2 separate regions of the Homo sapiens genome follow, and region 2 is linked to region 1. The links come from fine-mapping of genetic effects on gene expression. Tissue or cell type: whole blood. Region 1 holds a variant in brackets; the other region holds the start of a gene. All regions are shown on one strand. Distances are from middle to middle.

What was found. PIP is the estimated chance that this variant, and not a neighbour inherited with it, causes the effect.
Region 2: it holds the start of CD247, and the variant in region 1 is fine-mapped to the expression of CD247 in whole blood (INTERVAL, PIP 0.91).

The regions. Positions count from the first base shown.
Region 1 is chr1:167,454,081-167,462,080 of GRCh38, forward strand. All of the region lies in intron 1 of CD247 (CD247 molecule), which reads right to left. It overlaps LOC101928512 (a long non-coding RNA gene), which reads left to right and starts at 986. Exons shown (of 4, transcript XR_007066724.1): 1 at 986-1,118; 2 at 2,925-3,037; 3 at 3,289-3,441. RefSeq lists silencers at 840-949, 970-1,059, 1,150-1,239, 1,580-1,809. The variant G/A (reference allele first, on the strand shown) is at 4,240.
Region 2 is chr1:167,514,775-167,522,939 of GRCh38, forward strand. CD247 (CD247 molecule) reads right to left here and starts at 3,755. Exons shown (of 8, transcript NM_198053.3): 1 at 3,634-3,755. The coding sequence starts at 3,691. It also overlaps the pseudogene AKR1D1P1. RefSeq lists enhancers at 2,152-3,115, 2,387-3,586.

The sequences.
Region 1 (8,000 bases):
GGATGGTGAAAATGTTCTGGAAATGGATAGTGCTGATGATTGTACAATAATGTAAATGTACTTACTTCATGTCACTGAATTACACTTAAAAATGAAAATAGTAATGTTATATTATTTTACAAGAAAAAACACGTTAAAAATATATGTATATCTGGAGGGCCGCACACACAAAAATGTCATCCACGGTTACTTCTGCAGAGGAGCCACGGGAGGGGGAGGCTGGGTGAATTTCACTTATTTTCCACCTTACACCTTTTTGTGGTGTTTGGAACTCTAACTATGATAGTATATAATATTTATAATACTAAACAACCAAAACAAAAACAAATAACATGAACCCTTACATCAAAGAAGGTGTGTGCGGCAAGATTCTGGCAGGGCAGAAAGTGGAGGAACAGGGGCTGGCCCATTTAGCGAAGCGCTTTGCGCCCAGCCCTGGCTCAGTACATTTCTGGTGATGACTTGCCGGGGTTTGGAAGGACCTCAGCTATACAGAACTTTCACGATAATGGTATTTGGTGAATATGGTTACATTTATATATGAACACAGAAAACCAACTACTGCTGGTAAATAGCATGATCACTATTGTTATTATCCAGTGCTGTAAGGACGAGATGCTTTCACCAGCAGCCGAGTGAGATGAAAGCGCTTTTCCGATCCACCGAATCAGTCCCACTGCAACTGTAAGCTGGAGACCCTCTGGGCCTTGGGAGCTCAGGCTGCCTGGGCAACGCAAGGGAGGACAGGGGCGGAGGGGGAGCCAGGAGGGCCGCACCTGCCTCGCTCGCTGGTCGCCCTCGCTCTGGGATCCGTCCTGCCGGTCCCAGGCTGTTGAGGGCGCCTCCTCAGAGTCCCTGTGGCCCCCGCAGCTTCCCCGGAAGAAACCCGTGCATCCATCGGCTAGCCCAAGCCCAAGCTCCTCCCGGAGCTCCCCGAGCCGGGGCCAGGCCTCCGCCCCTCGGTGCCCGCGCCTGGGCTCCTCCCGCTGCGGGCCGCCCGCCCGGACGCAAGGCACAGGGGGACGCCCCGCCGAGCCGCTGCCCACTGCACCGAGTTTTTCGGAGGCTGGGAGAGGAAATGCCACTTGGATTTTAAAACCGTCACCGATACGCTATAGGTGAATATTTCGCTGGGATTTTAAAGAGACGAGCTTCAGCCTGCTAAGCCGCGCTCACGCCGCCTCTCCGCCCTGGCCTCCCCGCGTCCGGCTTGGGGCCGGGTCCCTCCCGGGTCAAAGCTACGCCGGGTGCACTGCGGGCTGGGCAGCTCTCCCACTACGCCCAAAGCCCAGGCGGCCGGGACCGCCGTCCCAAAGTCACAAACCACACCCGTGAAGGACGCCCTCCGCAAGACAGAGAGGAGGCTGGGCCTGGGAAGGAACCTCCGGCCCTTCCTCACCATGCAGCCAAGGTGGGCTCCCAGCCCCGTGTTGCCGCCAGCCGCGGCTCCCGTGCGGTTACGGGAGCAGCAGCCCCGCCCCGCCGGCCCCCAGCTGGCTCCTCGCTCGAGGTTTCCTGTCGAGCGCTGCCATCCAGGGCCCGGGTTATCGCGCGTGATCTCCCATCTGAGCTGCTCACACGCTGCCGCCCGCCCCCACTTGCGGTCCCTTGTCCCCGAACCGCACCCGCCCCCAGGCCCCCGCGCTGAGAGACCAGGGCGTGGATCTGCGCCGGGCTCCGGCGCTGGGGGCCGAGGGTCTGGTTTTTAGATATCAAAGGAGCCCGACACCAGGGTCCCCCAGACAGGCAAGGAGAGGGACCCGGCCTGGGGCCTGCCTTCGGTGGTGGGCACAGTGGCCAGGATCGGGCCTGGCTCCGGCTGGCCCGGCACACGAGCACGGCGACAGTGGCAAGACTGGGAGGGCCGGCGCTGCCTCCTTGGGAAGCCCCGGAGAGACGCAACCCTGAGAGGCTGGGCCTTCCCACCCCCCGCCCCCTCCCCCTTCCTCAGATAGCAGGGAGGAAGCGCCAGGGGTCTCTCCGTTCTCACATAGGGGGACTCCAAATGTCGTCAAACCTGCCACTCTCGGAATCAACAGCTGCTTTCATTTTGAGCCCTGTGAGCAAAAGTTTCAGGGCTTTCCTGGCACACATACCCAGTGCATGGAGAGCGCTAAATTTTATCTTCCCTTCTAGAGTGGGACATTCCTGTGTGGAGCTCCGAGAATACATGCCGGCACTGCCTGTGCCTGGGGCTGTGCTGGCTCCCACCCAGCTGCAGGAATGAGGGACCACGGTACGGAGGGAAGTGGCTGAGTTGACAGCCACTGATAGAGCTTTTTCCTGATTGTCTCTGGCTTGAGCTAACCAGGTGGCATGACAAAGTACTTAACAAAAACTACAGATGCAGAGAATTTTGGAAATTTTTAAAAGACAGGAAAAAAGGTGGTTGAGGCAGAAAAAGGTAGTTCTAGAGTGAGAGGGGTTTCTTTCCTCCTCTTGGCTCACAGCAGAGGCCAAGTCCTTAGCAGTGTTTCCAGAGCAGGTGAATGAGACTCTCTGAAGGCCGGCCCAGGGGTCTGCCTTGTAACACGTTCCCCCAGCTTCTCATGTACACCACCACTCTTCGGGGACCACCACCTTCTGGGTTGGATGGGTCTGGAAGATTCTACGAATATATCCAGCCCTACCTGAGCATTTGCAGAAAGCCTGCTCTGTGAGGGAGGGCAGCCCCAAAGCTCTCTGTTGTAGACACAGAACCCAACAGGGACTACTGGTGCCACACTCTATCTCTTCTGTCAGAGAAGCACCCAAGTGAGCCATGACTTTGACATTGCATGGCCATCTTATGTTCATTCCTCAAACTTTGTCATGTTAATGTGTACTCTCTCGGGGACATCATACCTAACACGGCTGCCTGAAGATCTGCTTCGTTTAGAATATGCTAGTGAGGACAGTCCTGGAATTTCTTTGTCTCTTTCCAGCCCTGCTTTCTCTACCTCCAGTCGTTTTCTGAGGACCGGCTTGGTGGGTGCTGATGCCTGCCTGGAAGACCTCACACCCACAGTGTCTTAGAAGATTCTGAAAGCAGTGTGAGGTACCAGCCTGCTTTAGCGCTAGGAGCTGGCATGGTGGGGGTCTCAGGCTGCATCCGCACATTCTCAGCGGTGCTTTTGCTCCTGGAATGGAGCCACAAGCTGCTCTGGGCCATTTAGAGACTCTAAGTGGTTTGCTCAGGGCTATATGGAAGTGGGAGGTGGGGGACCTGGGCGCTCTGTAGCATGCTTAGTCCCCCTGGCAGGGTTAGAGGTTAGTTGACCAGAGACAACGAGTCCAATTCCCAAACAGACCAGAATGACCAGCAAAGGAGAAAAGAACAAGGACACATTGCAGCCAAAATGGAGCTAGAATCTTGCCTCTGTCCATCCTTCACTGGAGTTATCCTGGATGGAGAAGGAACCATATCACCTGCAAAGCCTGGAAGGGGAGCCCTGCTGTGAGGTGAGCCAGTAAGTCTGTGAGTTCAGGAGGGAGCACACGCTTGTCTGTCCATCTGTTCATGAGCAGGCGCTCTTGAGTCTTCCTAAATATTGCCCAGAGCTCTCCATCCAGATACTGTCCTTTCCCTTCCTCTCCATTGATGGTCTCCAAGCCTTTCTTAGCTTTCATCTTCCCCTAAGGATTCCTTCTCCCAAAGCTCCAGCCCATTCCAATGTCAACTGCATTCGTTGTTTTTGTTACTCTCATTGTGTCAAATGGGTTCTTTCCTATGCAACTAGATTGTAGGTTGCTCCAAGGTAAACACCGTGATTTCTAGTTCCTTTGTTTCTACCACTGCAGGACTGTAGGAAGCCCAGTTGTAGGCATCACTAGGACTCAGTAATTACATAATTGCTCAGATAATTGAGAGAATGATTGATTGATTAGTGGTCATTAATGCCATAAAATGAAGGAATTTCGCCCCTCACATTTTCAAGAACCTATGAGTTCGAAGAGACCTGAAAGAACATTTTTATGGGAGCCTACACCAGTGCTATCACCTAAAGTGCGTGACCTTAGGGAAGTTGCTTCACCCCTTGTTTCTGTGCCTCCAAAATACTGGTGTTAATACAGTAATTTCTGATTCCTTCCACCTGTGCCCTGCTCAGCGATCCAGTGTTCAAGCTGGTCATCAGGAGAAAGCTACTTATGATTTCCTAACAAGCCACCACAGAACATCACATTCCCAAACATGCTCTTCACCGTCCCTGCTGTCCCCACGTGCCTAGCCCTGGTGTGGGCAGGAATGAGTGGGATTGG[G/A]ATGTTTTCTCACAGGTCTTTCTCAGGTGAGGCCCCAGGCTGTGACCAGGCCCCTGCCCTGCATGTGACTCAGGCCTAGCCCCTGCTGGGGCAGGAATGCCACCCAGCACAGCATCCTACTGGTGCCTGAATAAAGAATGGACTGGAGGTTCACCTGAAAGGGGCTGCCAGGTTTCTGCGGGGGCCAGCCAACGGCTCACAATGACCCTGTGTTCGACTCATCTTACGATGAAATTTTTCAGCTTGACGAACTTTTACTCATCTTTCAAGGCTCGGCTCAAATGTTATTTCCCTGGGAAAACTGCGCTACTTTCAGCAAAATGCATTTCCTTTTGATGGGCATCTGTTTTTTTCTTTCTTTCTTTCTTTCTTTTTTTTTTTTTTTTTTTTTTTTTTGAGACAGGGTCTTGCTCTCTTGTCCAGGCTGGAGTGCAGTGGTGCAATCTTGGCTCACTGAACCTTCACAATGGGCATCTGTTTCTGTTCTATGGAGTGACCTAAAAGTCAAGAATCATGGAGAAATTGGGAGCAATGGCTCACGCCTGTAAATCCCAGCACTTTGGGAGGCTGAGGCAGGCGGATCACTTGAGGCCAGGAGTTCGAGACCAGCCTGGCCAACATGGTGAAACCCCGTCTCTACTAAAAATACAAAAAAAAAAAAATCTGTTAGCTGAGCACTGTGGCGTGCGCCTGTTATCCCAGCTACTCGGGAGGTTGAGGCACAAGAATTGCTTGAAGCTGGGAGGGGGAGGTTGCGGTGAGCCGAGATCAAGCCACTGCACTCCAGCCTTGGTGACAGAGTGAAACTGTGTCTCAAAAATTTTAAAAAAAAAAAAATCATGGGGAGAATTTATTGTTAAACAGAATATTAGTTACATTTTCAAATAATACAGTCAATATGTTTTTCTGTAACCTTTAGATATGTTTTCAGGTGAAGTACCTCTAAATGTAAAGAAATGGGTCCAATTGTTAATTTTTTTTAAAGGTTCAAGAAATACACTACTTTCTCTGGCTTTTTCCTTACAACTCTTTTTTTTTTTTTTTTTTTTTTGAGATGAAGTCTTGCTCTGTCACCCAGGCTGGAGTGCAGTGGCATGATCTCAGCCCACTGCAACCTCCACCTCCCGGGTTCAAGCGATTTTCCTGCCTCAGCCTCCTGAGTAGCTGGGATTACAGGCACACGTCACCACACCCGGCTAATTTTTGTATTTTTAGTAGAGACAGGATTTTGCCATGTTGGCCAGGCTTGTCTCAAACTCCTGACTTCAGGTCATCCGCCTGCCTTAGCCTCTCAAAGTGCTGGGATTATAGGCTTGAGCCACTGTGCCCTGGCCTCTTGTACCTTTTTTACATTAACAACTGGACTCGCTTTAAATGTAGAGATACTTCCTGAAATGGTGTGTGAAGGTTGAAGAAAAACATGAGCATATTATTTGAAAATGTGGCTAAAGTTCTGTTTTAAAGTAAGTTTATGGTAATATTTCTAACTTTTCAGATGCTCTGTAGTTCTTGGCACATTTTTCACTAATATTTGGTGACAGGTCTGTCCCCGTTAAAAATTGAGAATTCCACAAAGCCTGGGATATGTTTTATTCTTCTTTGACTCTTCACTCCCCAGCTAACCACCATGCAGTGGGCAATCATAAGGGTTTAATGAATGAATAAATGATCAAGTCAGGTAGGTTTTCCCCGAATTCTTGTCTTTGGGGCTGAACCCAGGGTAGGTTTCCTGGCATCATTCCTGTGTTTTCTACTCTCCCTCCCTAATCCTCTGAAAGTTTGAACAAAAATAAGATTATGGGCCAGGTGTGGTGGCTCACGCCTGTAATCCCAGCACTTTGGGAGGCTGAGGTGGGAGGATGGCTTGAGCCCAGGGGTTTGAGACTAGCCTGGGCAACATGGCGAAATCCCGTCTCTACAAAAAATAGAAAAATTATCTGGGTGTGGTGGTGCGCACCTGTAGTCCCAGCTACTCGGGAAGCTGAGGTGGGAGGATCACCTGAGCCCGAGGAGGTCCAGGCTGCAGTGAACCAAGATCACATCACTACACTCCAGCCTGAGTGACAGAGTGAGACCCTGTCTCAAAAAATAAAAATAAAAATAAAGAAATAAGATTATGACCAAGAGCCGTATGTCTCAGATGTTGAAGGGCAATATACCTGTGCTTCAGAAAAATCTGCCCTGTGTGCCAAAATGTGCAGAAAGGAGAGCCAGCTTCTCAGCTGGCCCCATGCCCCACTACTAACTACTCCCACGGCCTCGGCGAGTTATTTCTTCTTTTTTTAAAAATTATACTTTAAGTTCTAGATGTGAACAACGTGCAGGTTTGTTACATAGGTATACATGTGCCATGTTGGTTTGCTGCACCTATCAAGTCGTCATTTACATTAGATATTCTCCTAATGCTATCCCTCCTCCAGCCCCCTGACCCCCCGACAGGCCCTGGTGTGTGATGTTCCCCGCCCTGTGTCCATGTGTTCTCATTGTTCAACTCTCGGGGAGTTATCTCTGAGTTACTCCTGAGTCTGGGCTGGGAGACACCAGGGGGACAGGGCACACACATTTGCAAGTTTCCTATTCAGGCCATGCTGTCCAGGCAGCCAGAATGAAGCCCAGCCAGAGCCAAAAGGCTTTCCTGGAGGTGTGTTTGTCAGTTTGGCAACCCTTGGTGTGCCCAGCCCACGCGCTGTGAGCATTCGCCTATGACGTACTTTGCGTGGATCAAAGGCCCCACAAAGCCTGCCGTGCCTGCAGCTGCCACGCTGGGGACATGCTGGGGACGTGGGCGATCGTGGGCTGAGAGGCAGACTGCTGGGCTGCCGCCTCCCATGGCAGCTTTCTCCCATGGGAGGGAGTTCACCTTGCGGCTTCCAAACTCAGCCGGGCCGCCCCTAGGCATGTCACCTCTTCTCTTTTTCTCTCTGTTGTCCCATGATTTGGGTCCTCAGGACCTCTCACCTGGACCCAGGGATAAATGAGATCCACTATCAGAGCCAATGGCAGCATCGGCAGCACTCTAGAGCTATTTCTACTTGATTCTAAACCTAGATTTATACTATGTGTAGCCAGCTAGAAATACAGATCTCACTGTAGAAAAGAGACTGGAAGAAATTACAGCAACTGTTAGCAGTGGTTTCATCTCTGGTTTGTGAAATTATGGGTGATTTAAATTTTCTTTATGCTTTCCCTTATTTTCCAAGTTCCATAGTGTATAAGAATATGTAATTTTGAAATAAGAGAAAATAGTCGGCCGGGCGTGGTGGCTCACGCCTGTAATCCCAGCACTTTAGGAGGCCCAGGCGGGCGGATCACAAGATCAGGAGTTCGAGACCACCCTGGCCAATATGGTGAAACCCCATCTTTACCAGAAATACAAAAATTAGCCGGCTGTGGTGGTGGGCGCCTGTAGTCCCAGCTACTCAGGAGGCTGAGGCAGGAGAATCGCTTGAACCTGGGAGGCAGAGGTTGCAGTGAGCCGAGATCACGCCACTGCACTCCAGCCTGGGCGACAGGCTCAAAAAAAAAAGGAGAAAATAGTCAAAGTACATTTTTGATGCCTTGTATTAACCTCCCTTTTGTGTCCCCCACCCTCAAACCTTAGTTGCACTTTAGGTCAATGAATATCTAAATCACTCTGCATTCTTCAGGCACACAGCAGCAGGAGGGAGGTGTGCCTGATAGGATGCTGGATTAAAGATTGGTTCTGACCAATTCACAGAGTATAGGATGCCCACAGGAGGAAAGCTGAATATTTAGCATGG
Region 2 (8,165 bases), 61 kb after region 1:
AGATAAATAAGGCTTGGGAGAAACGATTCCCAAAGTGCGTGTTTGGACAACTCTAATCTAAGAGAGTTCCCTCAGGGCAACTGGACCCTTCTAAGTAAAGCACAAGACACAATGCTGGGTAACTTTTGACTGGAAAAGTATATATCCAACAATAATTACATGTATTTTTTTAAAGAACAAAAGCAAAAATACAAAGAATTTAAAATTAAATACAGCAGTGGTTATTCACCTAAGCCAGAGCTCCCCAGGACCGTTTCTGGGGGATGCTTAGCAGAAGCAGATGTGATCTCTAGGCTAGTAAGCCTGAGAAACGCTAAAATTGAAAAATGAAATAGCTCATTTGGATGAGCAGAGCTAGGCGATTGGAGGGCGAAACAATCTGATGGTGAAAATGCCATTGATGAAAAATTTGTACTGGTATCACTTAAAAGCTTGCCTCACATTCACCTCCCAGCAATTTTAGCAAAGATTTAGTGTTCAAGAAGTTTGCATTTAGATACTCAGTCGCTGTGCACCCACAATAGCCCTTTGGCTTCAGAATCTAGGTGGCCACCCGGACCAGTGATGACTGGGTGGATTTTGTTTCTGATTCCTTTCAAAGTAATACTTTGAAAAACTTTTGTCTATGAGCCTTATCTAAGATAGCTAAAATGTCAGTCTCCACAGAGGCAAAGTAAGTGGCACTGAGAAGTAAAAAAATCCAGCCAATCCCCCTGCCCCCTATTTGTGGAAATGGGGCACAGCCCCCATCTTGCATATATTTTTTCAGACATGTTTTTACTTCGGGAGAATATTCCCCTACAGAGTAAGTATCTTTAAAAAATGAAAATGGTGGATGTAACAGTCATCCTATGACCAGCCAGAGCTTTGCTGCTTTTTCACTATCGGGCCTACCTCTGCAATCATTGTTATGTTTCTGTGCTGGTATGGGTGTGCCCAGAAATCAGAAGAGGGATGAGTTGGATTGCAACAGATGGAGAAAATGCCCACTGCTGCTTTATAACATATTGAAAGCAAATGAAGAATCCCAGCCATGGGTTTCCATCTCCTGTTTTGAGAACAAGAAGACAGTCCGAGATGTAATAATAGTAATAGTAAATACAATGTTTACTTATTGGCTGTCTACTATGTATTGGACACATTACATTACTTCTCATTGTCACATCTCTGCAAAGAAGGTATTACAAGTCTTTCTTTAGAGGTGAGAAAACTGAGGCCCAGAGAGGTTAAGTAACTTGCCTAAGGTTGCACAGCTAGGAAGCGGCAGCACTGGGACACCACCTGAAATTAGCCTGGCTCTTTCTACCACGTCCAGCCACCTTCCTAAAAGCAGAGCCACTCACAAGCCTGGAAGCTTTGCATTCCCCAAGGCTGCATGTCAGAGCTCCATCTCCTCACTGATAAAAGACAAACACCACACTGACCGCTGGGTGCATTCTTGGCTACTGCAGAGTAGGGAGTTAGAGGCACTGAGGGCTCTGCAGGCACAAGTGTGCCCATGCCACTAGGCACGCCATCTTAGGATCTTCTGGCCTCAAGCCCTGGTGACTGTCTTGGTAGATTCTCTCTCAGGGAGGCCTCCTCATGTGGACAGACCAGGTCATCATTTGCTTTGATCCTAATAATCTGGGCATTTCCAAAGAAATGCAAATGCAACAGCTTAGTAAAAAGTAGACATTTTAAAAGGGATGTATGCAATGGGTCACTTAACTGAGCAAGAAAAGAGAGAAGACCTGACTGAAATTCTATGTGCGGCCTTTCCTCCGGGGAGACTGTGGAGGTGTCCCCTCAGGCAGCAAAAGCACCATCGCAGCCCTCGGTGTCAAGGCCTCTCTGAGTCGCGCTTTGCCTTACCGTACCTCGTTTCTGGGCTAGGATATTTTGAAACACTTTTGTCTATTAGCTTTATCTAAAATAGCTAAAATATCAGTCTCCATAGAGGCAAAGTAAGTGGCACTGAGAAGCAAAAAATCCAGCCAATGTGCAGTTTTCTCCTCCTGCCCCCTATTTGTGGAAATGAGGCACGGCCCCCATCTTGTCTGCTGGGTGGGGTTCTGTTTACCACGCTTGGCAGCCACCGCCACCCAACAATCTTTCATTTTTCTTTCTAACTTCACTTTGCCCCTACCTTGGTCTCTCCAAGCCGAACACAAATGGACCAGTGAGGAAACTGCAGGTAAAGACCCTGAAAGGTTATATGAGCTCCCTGGTGTGGTGTCTCAAGCCTGAAGCTCAGAGGCTGGAGCTATTGCCCCTGGCTGTCTCCCCTGAAGTCACTAAATTCCAGCGTTCTGGGTCCCCTTGTCCCCAGCACACAAGGATGGGCTGCTCTGAGCAAGCTCAGGCACCCTCACTCTGCCACACTGTGTGTGTGACTTAGACCCCACAAGGCTTTTCTGAGAAAACAGCTGTGACCTGACAGAAACCCCTGCAGCTGCACGGGCCTCAGAATCCCCCGAGGCGCTGGCCCGGGCTGTGCCTGGCTCCCTGGTGGGAGCAGAAGTGCCCATGGCCTCTCCTGCCCTCCCAACAGGGCCCCTAAACAAATTCCCACACCCAGGTGAGTTACCAGGAGCGATCAGGTGGGCCGAGGACATTTGCTTGCTTCACCTTCCCTGTTTCTTTAGATTGAAATTCAGCCTGCCCCACTTCTCAGGAAGATGCCACGAGGCTGATCCCCCTGAGCAGTTTGTCCTGTCCTCTTTTCACTGGTTTTCTTCCTCATTACCTGGGCTAGAAAACATGGTGGAAGCTAAAGGCTTGCAGCAAAGCTGGGCTCCCACGATCGGGAATGAGGTGAGGAGCAAGCACTCTTGTTGGCTGGGCGCTGCTCGTGGTGGTGACTTAACCAGGCACATCGTCTCATCTGCCCCGTGTTCTGTCAATGCCGGGCCCTCTGGCTGGGCTAGATGGCCGCCTAAGGGGCAGGCTGGGGTGAGTCACGGAGCCTGGGATGGTGCGTCACCCGGCAGTCCCAGGCGTGGGTGTGGGGACAGCCATGACAAGGCTGAGCCTAGACACGGACGCTTGGCCATGAGGTGGCGAAGGCGCTGTGGAGGCTGCCACCCGGTGCTTCCTGCCTGTGCCCCTCTCCTCCTTGGTTACCCCACTTACTCCCGGGCCCATTGGAGTGTTTCAGGCCATGACCTTGACTGACCAACAAAATCTTCTTTGTTGGCAAAGGAAGAAAGAAAGGGGCTGAGTGACGGAGCCAGCCAGAGGGTGAAAGAAGCTGAAGGGACTAGAACGTCGCAGCACGAAACATGGCCTGGCTGACATTTTCCGATCCTGTCCAGCTTCTGTGAAACACTCCCTCTCCGTTTCTCTACCCTGGGCCTGCCTCGGTTGCTCTCTTGCTTCCTTCTTCCTTCCTCTCTTATCACTCGAAAAATCTGTACCTGGAGGAGCTGTGTATTCTAGCAGCTGGCTCTGAACTGATGCCCAACTCGGCTGTGACGGAGCAGATGCCAGCACCGGGCCGGACCCCTCACTGCTCACTTGCCCATTGATTTGAGGAGGGCAGGATTTGAAGGAGACCCCAGCCCCTCACCACCCTCCACTACCCACACCCACTCCCCTACACATACACAAAGAGTTTCTAGAAGTTCCCTGCCGTCGACACGTCGGCCCTACCTGTAATCGGCAACTGTGCCTGCAGGATGGCCGCGGTGAAAAGCGCCTTCCACTTCATCTTGTCCTTTCCCTCAGAAAGAGGCTGGGAGGCAGAGGCTGAGGCAGCGGTGGCCGGGACGGTTAGGAGAAAAGGAGTCTCTGCTGGTTTTATTCTGCAGCTACCTCCCCAGGAAGTGGAGGACTGTGGGGCCTTTGAGAAAGCACCTGCCGACAGGGCCAAGAAATTCGCACTCCCCCTTTCGGTTCACAGGCAGGAAGCCCTGGAGGTTTGAGGGTTTGGGGTGTGTGTATGTATCTGTCTGTCTGAATTTTGCTTTTTCTCTCATTTGACCATTGTTTTAATGCTCCTTTTTTTAAAAAAAATAATTCTTATCTAATTCCTATCTTGATTGGTAAAGTCCATCTCTAGGCAAATACAAGTTCTCGATGGATGTAAGAACATTTGCTGTTTTCCTAGACTGTCAAATATTTTATGGTGGCTGGCAAAATGACAGAACCCTGGATTAGAGTCCAGGACAAATGTAGAGACAGATTCCTTGGGCTTTAGTGACATCTCTGCCTACCACCTACTTGCTGTGTGGCGTTGAGTCAGTCACTCAACATCTCTAGACTTCAGCTTCCTTATCTATAAAGCAAAGAGCTGGAGTAGATCTGAGGTTGCAGATCTGAACTTGGCCTGAATTTGGATCATTGTGTGAAATACTGTAGCTCACATAGTATTTTAAACACTTGTGTTAGTTGTCAACATTTAAACACCAGAGTAATTTACAATAATAAAACATTAAAACCTAGACATAAACTTCGTCTAAAAATTGTAATATATCTATATGAAACAAACTTTAAAACATTGCTGAAGAACGCCGAAAGGACTTGGGTAAATGGAAAGGCATACCCTTCTTTGATAGGAAGCTCTCTTTTAAGGAGACCACCATTCTCTCTTAATTAATCAATCTATTTCATTGAAAATACCAACAAAAAGTTTTAGAACAAGTTAAGCTGATTCCAAAATTGATATGAAAAAAATTAATGTACAAGAATAGCCAATAATCCAAAGTCACAGCAATCCAACATAAAATTGATAAATTGGACTTCATCACAATTAAAAGTTTTTGTGCATCAAAGGACACTATGAAGAAAGTGAGTCCTGCAAATCACCGCATACCTCTAAGTGATGGAAACAGCATTCCCATCATCAGACTTGGTACCTACTCAGAGCCTAAATTGACCCCTAAGGGGGCCGATGACTTACTCAAGGCCACACAGCAAGTAGGTGGTAGGTAGAGATGTCACTACAGCCCAAGTAGTCTGTCTCTACATTTAGTCTGAGTCTTCATCAGTGAAGGTTGTCATTGGTCTGGGGTGCTGACACACTGATGAAGCCTACATATACCAAAATGAAGACACAGCTGGGGAGGCCATCAGGGGGAAAATAGCAGAAGGAAAGGTGCAGAGGAAGGATATCTTCTACTGTGGAAAACTGTGGGCTACAAATCACAACCCAGAGCTGGTCTGCCCGAGCCTAGAGAGGATGCTCAAGGTCCTCCAGCTAGATTGTGTGGATCTTTACATCACTGAAATACCCATGGCCGCTAAGCCAGAAGACAAAATCTACCCTATAGGTGAGAATGGCAAATGGTTATATCACAAGTCAAATCTGTGTGCCACTTGGGAGACTTCGGAAGCTTGTAAAGATGCTGGCTTGGTGAAATCCCTCGGAGTATCCAGTTTTAACAGCAGGCCAGCTGGAGCTCATCCAGAACAACCCAGGACTCAAACCCAAGCCAGTCAGCAACGAGGTTGAGTGCCACCCATATTACACCCAACCAAAACTTTTGAAATTTCGCCAACAACATGACATTGTCATGATTGCATATAGCCCTTTGGGGACCACTAGGAATCCAACCTGGACAAATATGTCTTCTCTGCCTTCGTTAAAGGATGCACTTCTAAAAAGGTGCAATAAGATCACAGCTCAAGTTATTTTGCGTTTCAACATCCAGCAAGGGGTGGTTGTCATTCCTAAAAGCTTTAATCCTGAAAAGATCAAGGAAAACCTTCAGGCCTTTGACTTTTCTCTCACTGAATCAAGGACATTGAAGCCTGGAGTGAAAATGTCCGCTTCATAGAAATGCTCATGTGGTGTGATCATCCCAAATACCCATTTCTTGATGAATACTGACTTCAGAGAGTTCCTGAACAGATTCTCCCCTCCCACGTGTGGAGGACCTTAGGGTGCATAGTTCCCCATGGACACGGAAATGAAAGAGGTTTTATTATCTGAAAAGTGGTGATGGAAACATGCTTAACTTTTGTATAGTGTAAGTGATTTTAACTCACCCATGTTAAAGACAAAATGTTTAAATCTGTTGAAATTCTTAGGAAATTATCACCTAATATTTTATTAGATAAATGTCTTCTGGGTTCCAGACCAAAAACAAAACAAAACAAACAAACAAACAAAAAACAATTAGATTCCAGAAAAGACTTGAAAGGCAACAGATGACAACCAGCAACAAGTAACTCATGAATGTGGGTAGTAACATTGTTAGCCTGAGTTCTTTAGCAGTCAACAGGACAACAAAGACAGCAGAGGGCCCCCATGTGCCAGGGTGCTGGCAGTGGCCTTGAGGACTTGAACCATTGACTGCAATACAGACACAGCCAAGATAAGATCCAGACATGCATTATTAACAAAAAAGTGATTTGCTGCACCTTGAGTAGGGAGAGAGGGCTAAGTGTAGAAAAGTCTTAAAATAGAGTCAATTAAACACCACAGTGATCAACAAAGCCATAAGGATTTTATTGTTGTTTGTTTCTATCCGATGTATGTTTGTTTAGCTTTTACTCAGCTTGAAGGATGCATACTTGCTGGTTCTCTTTTGCATCCTCAGAGGGTCTGAGTTTCAACATAACTAGTGGTCCATACTTACATTGTCTTATATTCACTCTTGCCACATTGATCATCGAATCACCATTACGTGAAGTGGCTTGAAACAACCAACATACATAAATAAAACTCTGCATCATAAAGTATTCCAAAGACGGCTATTTTAAAACAAGACATTTTATAAGGGGACTTTAGGAGACATATTGAAAGAAGAGGCTTTATAAAAGTACTATGCTTAAGTCTTTAAGAGTGTTATTGGGATAGCTATGTGAATTTTGAGAAAATAGCACGTTCAAAAGAACACTGGTAATTGTACTCTATGTAAATTTTTAAAGAGAATAAAATTATTAGAATTCAACAACAGAGATGTACCTATTTTCAGTTCAACTACAGAAATATATTTTATTCATTCATATTAGATCACTCTCACAGGGCAAGAGAGTTCTTCAAAAATTATGCTTTTCCAAGACCAATTGCTTATAGATAATCTTCAATGACCTGTACACATACATTTCTGAGAAAGTATCACTTAAAAACTTGATCTATACTGATTGTTTTCACTGATTCCGATGTTAATACTTACAATGCTTGTCCTCTAGACAATACTTTGTTCACAAGAAATCATGAAATATGATGACAAAGAAAGACAAAAGAAAGAACGAAGAAAGTGAAAAGACAACCCAACCCACAGAATGAAAGAAAACATTTGTAAATATACTGATAAGGGTCTAGGATTCAGAATATATAAATAACCCCTATGACTCAACAATAAAAAACATAACCCAATTAAAAATTGGCCAAAGATGTAAATAGACATTTCTCCAAAGAAGACATACAAATGGCCAATTAGCACATGAAAAGATGTACAACATCATTAGTCATTAGGGAAATACAAATCAAAACGACAGTGAGATACCACTTCTCACCCACTAGGATAGCTAAAATAAGAAAACAGACAATACAAGTGTTGATAAGGATGTGGAGAAACTGGAATTCTCATACATTTTTGTGGGTTATATAAATGGTGAAGCCCTTGTGAAAAATAATTTGGCAGTTCCTCAAAAAGTTAAACATAGTATCATGTGACCCAGCAATTCTATTCCTAGATATATACCCAAGAGAATCGGAAACCTAGGCTCACACAAAAACTTGTAAAGGAATGTTCATAGCAGCATTATTCACAGTGGCCCTAAACTGGAAACAATTCGAATGGCCACAACTAGGAATGGATAAGCAAATGCGCCGTATCCAAACAATGAAATATGACTCAGCCATCAAAAAGAATGAAGCACTGTTACATGCTGCAACTGGGATGACCCTTGAAAACATTATGCTAAGCGGAAGAAGCCAGGCACAAAAGGTTACATAGTGTATGATTCCATTTATATAAAATGTCCAGAATAAACAAATTCATAGAGATAGAAAGCAGGTTAGTAGTTGCCAGGGGATGGGGAGAGTGGGGAATTGGGACTGTCAATAGCTATGAGGGTTCCTTTGAGATGATGAACATGTTCTAGAATTGGACAGTGGTGATGGTGTGCAACAGAGTGAATATACTAAAAACCATTGAAGTATGCACTTTAAAATGACACATTTTATGTTATATGAATTATATCTCAATACAAAAATAATGCTAAAACAAACA